Linked DNA regions of Homo sapiens. The protein of the gene in region 1 purifies or fractionates together with the protein of each later gene. This does not show direct contact. Each region holds a gene or a part of one and is shown in the gene's direction. Other genes may lie near its edges.

Evidence for each region. Proteins that work in one complex are often made in the same cells at the same time.
Region 2: the proteins of TECPR1 (region 1) and COL18A1 purify together in Homo sapiens (affinity purification with mass spectrometry; one large-scale study listed by BioGRID and IntAct). This does not show direct contact.

The regions. Positions count from the first base shown.
Region 1 is NC_000007.14:98,249,433-98,253,662, reverse strand, and holds the start of TECPR1 (tectonin beta-propeller repeat-containing protein 1), read left to right. Parts: upstream 1-1,430; 5' UTR 1,431-1,537; intron 1,538-2,114; 5' UTR 2,115-2,269; intron 2,270-4,230. UniProt on the Homo sapiens protein: Tethering factor involved in autophagy.
Region 2 is NC_000021.9:45,464,165-45,467,664, forward strand, and holds part of COL18A1 (collagen alpha-1(XVIII) chain isoform 4 preproprotein), read left to right. Parts: intron 1-3,500. UniProt on the Homo sapiens protein: Probably plays a major role in determining the retinal structure as well as in the closure of the neural tube.

The DNA.
Region 1 (4,230 bases):
GGCTCTGCCCACATCTCCAGACCAAGTCCACAAATGCCAGTCCCTCAGGCCCAAGCTAAAGTCAGGGTCAGACACAGGACTCCACAGAGCCATCCGGGGTGAACAAGAGGCTTCTGGGGGCGTTTTCTTCCACTGGAGCTGGCCTGTGTGGGGCTTCCCCAAACATGAAGGCCCAGGAAAAGCCTGTGTGCAACCCCAGAAATGAGACAGAACTAGAGGGGGAGCAGGAATAGGTCCCTAGGTCCAACCAGGTGACATTGGTTTAGCTCAATGTCGGGTAGTATCTAGCCTTCCATCAGATGCCCTTTTTTTTCTTTTTTGAGAAGGAGTTTTGCTCTTGTCGCCCAGGCTGTAGTGCGGTGGCACAGTGGCACGATCTCAGCTCACTGCAACCTCCACCTCCCCAGTTCAAGCGATTTTCCTGCCTCAGTCTCCCGAGTAGCTGAGATTACAGGCATGCGCCACCACCCCTGGCTAATTTTGCATTTTTACTAGAGACGGGGTTTCACCATCTTGGCCAGGCTGGTCTCAAACCCCTGACCTCAAGTGATCCGCCCGCCTTGGCCTCCCAAAGTGCTGGGATTACAGGTATGAACCGCCGCACCTGGCCGACATCTTTCTTTTTTCTCCTTTCTCCATCCTAACCTTGCCAGTTTTCTGCCAGGCGGGATACAGTGTTTTCAAATCCCAGTTCCATCGCTTACAACGTGAGTCGCTCCATCTCTGAGCCCGTGTTCGCATTTGTAAAATGGGAATGACGCCGCCAGCTCTTTGGGTTGCTGGGAGGATGAAATGAGAAGACCCAAGTAAAGCACTTACGTCAGTGCCCGCCACCCCGGGAGGACTCGCATATTACTATTAATATATTAGGCCAGCTTACACTGGGTTTTGTCACTGACAATAGAGTTTGAGCAATCCAGGGCCTGTTACTGACACCACACCATGCTATAGTCACAAAATCACATATGCTTCCAGGACTCCTCCTCGAAAGAGTAAAGCTTTAAGTGTAGTGTGTGCTCAAGGGCTACGTTTCAGTTCGATGGATACCAGGAAGACACCTGTTCCCTGCGTCCTCTCCACGCCCCAGGCCGGGCGCCCACACCCTGCTCCTCCTGACGCCGCACAGCCACGCACCCAGGTACCCTCTCCGCCACCCCTTCTCCTCGCCTGCAGGCGGTGTCCACACCGCCCTCTCCGCTCCTGCAGACCGGGTCCTGGAGGGCGGCCGGGCGGTCCACGGGCCGGTGTCGCGCCGCCAGAGAGAACGCGGCAACTCGCTTCAGCCGACTCTGGACTCCTGACCTGGCGCGACCCCGGAAGTGGGCGGGCGCGCGACCTCGAAGCCAGCACCGACGCGGCGCACCGCAGCCAATCGCACGTCCCAGGTCGCAGCGTCCTGGCGAGGCTGGCCAATGGGCACGGGGCCTGATGCCGCTTCCGGCCCACCCTCTTGCCCGGTCCCCGGGAGGGCCGGTCCGCTCCTCCCGGACGCCGAGGACCTACCACCGCGACTTCGCCCCGCCCGGCGCGGGCCCAGGTGAGTGCAGAGTGGCGCCCCAGCTGCAGCGGCGGCCAGGGCCGTGGGAAAGAATGGGGCGATGAAGGGCTGGGCACGCCGCCTTCCCCACCACCCCCAGGCTGTTTGCTCGCGGGGAGGGAGGAAGGAGGGACCGCACTTGTCATCTCGCCTGCACACCTGGAAGGTGCCGCCCCCGTCCCCTGCCCTGGAACGCCCACAGGCTAGCGAAGTTGCCTGGTGCAGGTGACGCCCCCATTCCAGCCTTTGGACTGGAGCCATAGGAGAAGCGGATCGCGGGATCCTGGTTGTTTTCGAGAATCACGCAGCAAGGGGCCTGCCTATCCCTCTCCCTGGGTATTGATGGGAGCAAATCTGCTTGTCGTAAGATTAGCTTTGGCAGATGGTCAGGGCCCAGAGCTCCGACATATGCTACTGGTGGCAGTGCAGGGGCCCCACCTGTCACCCAAGTGCACAGCACTGGGCTGAACGCCAGGCTGACTCAGGACACCTCCTGCCCGGTGGGGCTGGGCGGACCCTATTCTTCAGGAAAGAATCAACTACCATGCAAGTTCTGCTGCTTTTTCCCACCTTTTAGGACCCTGATGTCGCTTTTGAACAGCCCCTGCACCTGGCAGCCAGCGAGCTACTGTAGTAGGCATTGCCGACTGTTTGCATACCGGATGGGAGTGACAGTGTAATAGAAAAACAAGCAAGAAACCTTTTAGGTAGGACTCCTAAGGCTCAGAGGAAGTAAGTGCTTGCGGAGCGTTCTTTGTACTGTGTCTTTTCCTCTACCACATCTCTGTCCCCGCCTCTCTTGGGTGCTTTTTTTGGTCTCTGAAAGGATCTGTGAATAAACTGAGACAGAAAGGCAGATGGCTTTGAGGGTGGCGAGCAGACCTTCTTCGTGGAAAGACTGAAGGTTCAACTCAAATTCATCTTGTAGAAATTCTTGGTGAATTCGAGGCTGCTGATTTGGAAGATTTTCCTCCATCCCTCTAACCCTACAAAACAAACAAGTCCCAGGATCCCTGAATCATGGGGCTTCATGTTCCAACCCCCCTTTCAAGAGTCCTCTGACCCAGTGACCCTGTGTAAGTTGCCTGATCAGCTCACAGCCAGAAAGTGGCCCATGAGGAGCTAGGGGGAGCCTCTTGGCAGAGGCAGAAAGAAAGTGTGGCTGACCAAGGATGGTTACCGGATGTCAACTGTAGCTAGGAAGTGACGACAGGTGCCTGGGTCTCTACTCTGAAGGGAGTTTGTAAATACAGCAACCCCCCACCCCTCCCTTTCACTGTAGCAGAGTCTTCTCCCATTAACTGCCCAGAAGATTCAATGATGTCTATGAGGAAATTAGTGCTTAGTCATTTATTTGAAGGAAAGTCAAAATCTCCTTTCATTGAGCTCAACCTGCAGACTGAGTCTAGCTAAACTGCTTGCTTATCCAGTGAATTCTGAGCTATCTTTGTTTTGTTGTTGTTGTTGTTGTTGTTTGTTTTCCTTTTTGAGACAGGGTCTCGCTCTGCTGCCCAGGCTGGAGTGCAGTGGCACAATCATAGCTCACTGTAGCCTCAAACTCCTGGGCTCAAGTGATCCTCCTGCCTCAGCCTCCCAAGTAGCTAGGATCACAGGCATGTGCCACCACACCTGGCTAATTTTTTTTTTAACTTTTTATTTTTACAGAGATGGGGTCTCCCTGTGTTGCTTAGGCTGGTTTTGAACTCCTCGGCTCAAGCGATCCTCCCACCTCAGCCCCGGAAAGGGCTGGGATTACAGGCATGAGCTACTGCACCTGGCCTCTGAGCTATCTTTGAAGGCTAACTTATATTTAACACTATAGAAAGTGACAATTAAAAAAAAAAACCTTCGTCTTCCCCTAGCATTTTATTGAGGATTTTCCCACATACAGCCAAGTTGAAAGAATTATACAGTCAGCATCCCCATCCCCACCAACTAGATTCTACTATTGACACTTTACTTGCTTTATCACATATCTGTCCACCAATTATGACCTTACTTTTCAAGTTATTTGTGGCATTTGTTTTCCCTGGAGAAGTATTTCTGTCTTAGATCAGGGAGTTGGCAGTGTGTTGGAGGTAGGTGGTGGTGATTATCCTTAAATGTTGTTTCAACACCCACTGTGTGCAGAGACTATTATGGAAATGAAGAGGCTGAAGACTCAGACCTGAAAGGGACTTGGTTTTTTGTTTTTCTTTTTTTTTTTTTGAGATGGAGTCTTGCTGTGTTGGCCAGGCTGGAGTGTGGTGACACGATCTTGGCTCACTACAATCTCCTCCTACCAGGTTCAAGCGATTCTCCTGCCTCAGCCTCCCAAGCCGGCTAATTTTTGTAGTTTTAGTAGAGACGGGTTTCACCGTGTTGGCCAGGCTGGTCTCAAACTCCTGGCCTCAAGCAATCTGCCCGCCTTGGCCTCCCAAAGTGTTGGGATTACAGGCATGAGCCACCACGCCCAGCCCTATTCTGCCTTTTATAGATTAGGAAATTAAGGCACAGAGAGGTTAGTTAGCTTTTGGTGGTACAAGAAAGTGAGGATCCCAGAATGCAGCATTCTGAGATCCAGGCAGCTCTGGACTCTCTTAGTCACTGTGAAGGTGCCAGAGGGACCCTCAGTCCTGATCAGTGAGGCACGAAGGGGTCACCAGGGGTCCCAGCTCAGTTTCAGATGGTTCCAGAAAGCTGGTGTTCTGATT
Region 2 (3,500 bases), on another chromosome or scaffold:
GTAGCACAGTGCCCAGGCACTGGGGCAGAGGTGGATCCCGTAGTCCCTCGGTGGGAGCTCCAAAGCCTCCCGTTTTCATCTCTTCCTCTTCCCAGGATGGGATTTTGGGGATGAGATCTTCCTGGTGGGCTGGAGTCTGTCCCAGAAGTCAACAGCCCAACCTGGGGCCAAAAAAGACCCTCTTAGATAAGGCAGGCCCTCGGCAAGACTCCAGCCACACATGAGAGGGTGGAACAGAGCTCCTGAGTCCCACTAACCACGGCCACCTGCAGTGGTCAGGTGGGGGCACCGTGTCCATCCCCCCATGGGTTTGTGCCAATTTGCATATAGGTATGTAGCTTCCTATTGGCGACTGTAAGAAATTGCCACAAATTCAGTGGCTTAAACCAACACAGCTGTCTTACCTTTCAGTTTTGGAGGTCAGAGTCTGAAACCAGTTCACTGGGCTGAAACCAAGGTGTTGTCAGGGCTGGGTCCCTCTGGGACTCTGGAGGAGAATCTGTTTTCTTGACTTTTCCAGCCTCTAGAGGCTGCCGCTTCCCTTCGCTCAAAGCCCCTTCTTCCCCCTTCAAAGCCAACGGTGTTGGACAAGTCCTCATGGTGCCATCTTTTGTCCTTCGATTTTAAGGCTTTGTGTGGTTAGAAGTGGATCATCTCCCATCTCCAGGTCCACAGCCTGAGTCCCAGCTGCAGCATCCCCTTGCCACGTAAAATTACGCTTGTGGGTTCCAGCTGTTGTGCCGTGGACATCCTTGGGGCCATGGCTCTGCCCACCACAGTTTGTCCATGTGCACGGCTGCACATGTGTACATATGCATGGGAGTCTTACTTTGCATTAATGGGATTGCCCTGTGTCTGAAAGTTCCTCTTTCCTTTATCCTGCATCTCAGGAGTCTCCATAACTCCAGGGAGATGCTCTGCTCTTCGTGTTGTTCTGGTCTTTTCCTCAGCCCTTCCTGACTGAAGCACTCGCAGGTATTTCTGCTTCTCTGTATAACAGATGACCCTGCAGACACCTGCTCAGCCCCGACTGGCGGGTTCATCGCACAGCCTCGCCTTTGTTTATCAGACACCAGCTGAGCCACCCCACCTGTGCCTGGCGTGGGTTTTGGGTCAGCGCTGACGGTGGAGAGATTGAATGTTGTAAACGTGTCCGAGTGTCAACAGGAAGTCTCCACCCGGGGACAGGGGCCCGTTTCTTAGGTTGTTTTTAGCCTTCCGTGGGGGCTCTGCAGCCTTGGGATTTGGTGGAGGTGTTTGTTCTGAGGCCGTTTTTCTTTGATGCCAAGATGTCCCCCCGGGCACTTCACTGCGTAAGTGCTATGGTGTGATGGAGTGATGATGGTGGCGCACTCTTCAAGCTCTGGATCAGGTTCCGGAAGCTCTGTGTGAGTCTTACTGAGGTGGTTATTTTCTCTTTTCCCTGGAAAGTGGGCTGAGAGCACTCCATGTGGGCACGAGCGGCCCTGGCTCTGCAGGACTGGAGGGGGCTGTGCTGGAGGGCGGGGGGCTGGCCAGGCAGCCTTGGATCTTGTCCTCAGGAGCCCTTCAAAGGGGCAGCAGAGACTCCAGGCCCTGTGCCCCGAGGAGTCAGGCTGGGCTGGTTCTGGGGAGTGTCTGGAGCACCTGATGCTGAGCACAGGCGGGCGTCCGTGGAGTGCACGTGTCTGAGGGTCTCTGAGGGGTTTGCCCTTTTCTTCGGAGCCACGGTGGCCGTGAGGGATGCAGGACATTGGGTGTGGCCCTCGAGGACTGGCCTGTCTGGAGCCCACTCCCCCGTGGGTGAACGCGGCTCTTGGTGGAGAGCCCAGTTTGGGGAGAAGGGACGGTCTTGTCCTGGGAGGTGTCAGACAAAGCCGAGCATGGGACTCACAGGAGACCCCCAGTCAGGCCGTGTCAGGGTGAGGCTGGGAGTGAGGGTCCTGGAAAGTCCGGCTTCTGGGAGAGGGCGCTTTGGCTCAGAGGCTGCCACTGCAGAAGGGATGGACGTCCCCGGTCCCCTAAGATAAGGGACCCAAGGGGAGGGGCGGGGACGTTCCACACTGGTGTGAGAACAGCGGAGAGTCCCAGCCAGAGGTACCCGCTGCTCTCCTGCGGGGAGGATGCTGGCTGCACTGTCTGTCCTGGGCATATTTAAAGGGGCCTCTGTTAACACACACAGGCCTCCAGAACCATCCACACTTCTGGCTGGCCTGATTCCTGAGGGGGAAATGGTCTTTAAAGAAGCAAGCACCTTGATCCAAAGGGAGGTGGTCCAGCAGGAGGGGCCGCCCCACCATACCCAGGAAGGTTGAGCTCTCGCACCCGGGAAGGCTGAGCTCTCGCACCCGGGAAGGCTGAGCTCTCGAAATGGGGTTCAGGCATTTGCTGTTTGATTCCAGGACATCTGAGACAGCTGGGCCTGTACCTCGGGGAGTGGAGGCTGCGCCATTCTCTGCCCATCCAGCATCTTAGGGCCGGGCATTTGGAAGCTGGCTTCTGAAGGGAGCCCCCAGGAGCTTCGTGGAGAGGAGACGGGACAGCTTTGGAAAGGGCGTTGCTGTCACTGGGGTCCCTGGGGCCGCCGGTGTAGCGTGCTGGTACCCTCCAGCCCAGGAAGGTGGCAGCTGCCGCATCTTGCTTTCCCAATGACGGAATGTTCTAGGAAGGGTGGTGGGAGGTTTCTCCAAGGTGAACGCGGGGGCAGCTGGGTGGCTGGCACGGCCTCTGGCCCCCAGGCCGAGTCCTGTTTCCTGATCTTATCACAGCCCCAGCTTGGACATGTGGGACCAGGCACTTCTTATGAGAAAAAGGATCATTGTAACAGCTGCCATCTGGATGGACGATCATTGTAACAGCTGCCATCTGGGTGGACGGCGGCCTCTGTCTGAGGGGGATGTGACCGCTGGCCCCCAGAGCCCAGGCTCAGCCCGTTGGGACCCCTCTGCCCCTGGCCCAGACTGTGGCTGCAAAGCCCGGGCTCTGCCTGGCACGGCAGGTGTGCTGGGAAGTCACTCTGAGCAGGGTCTGCCCTTGAGTGGGTGCTGCCCCCCTCCCGTGGGCAGGAAACGAGGTGTGAGAACTCTGGGCACCGGGGCTGCGTCCTGGCTTGGGCTCCCTGGGCGAGGGATGGACAGGGCTCCTTCTGACCCTGGGCTACTGAGTCGAAGTGAAGTCAAGCTCCGCCTGGGCAGGAATGAGTGGAGTGAGTCACCCGGCGCTGTGGGGCATTTGCACGGAGCAGCGGGGCTGGTGGGGAGACTGTGGCACGTTGGCAGGTACGTCAGGCATGCAGCCCCTCCAAGGGGTGATTGTGGCCCCGAGGGGAATCAGCATGGGGGGGATGGGGAGATACAGCTTGTCCTTGCCACATGAAGCACCTGGCCCAGCAGGTGAGCCGGTGACCGACAGCGCTGGGTGAAATCCCGCACCGTGTCCTCAGATGCCACGTGGAACCCCAGCTGAGGCAGCCACTCTGGGCGACGCCCCGTAGCCGAGGCTTCGAAGAACACTGGGGTGTG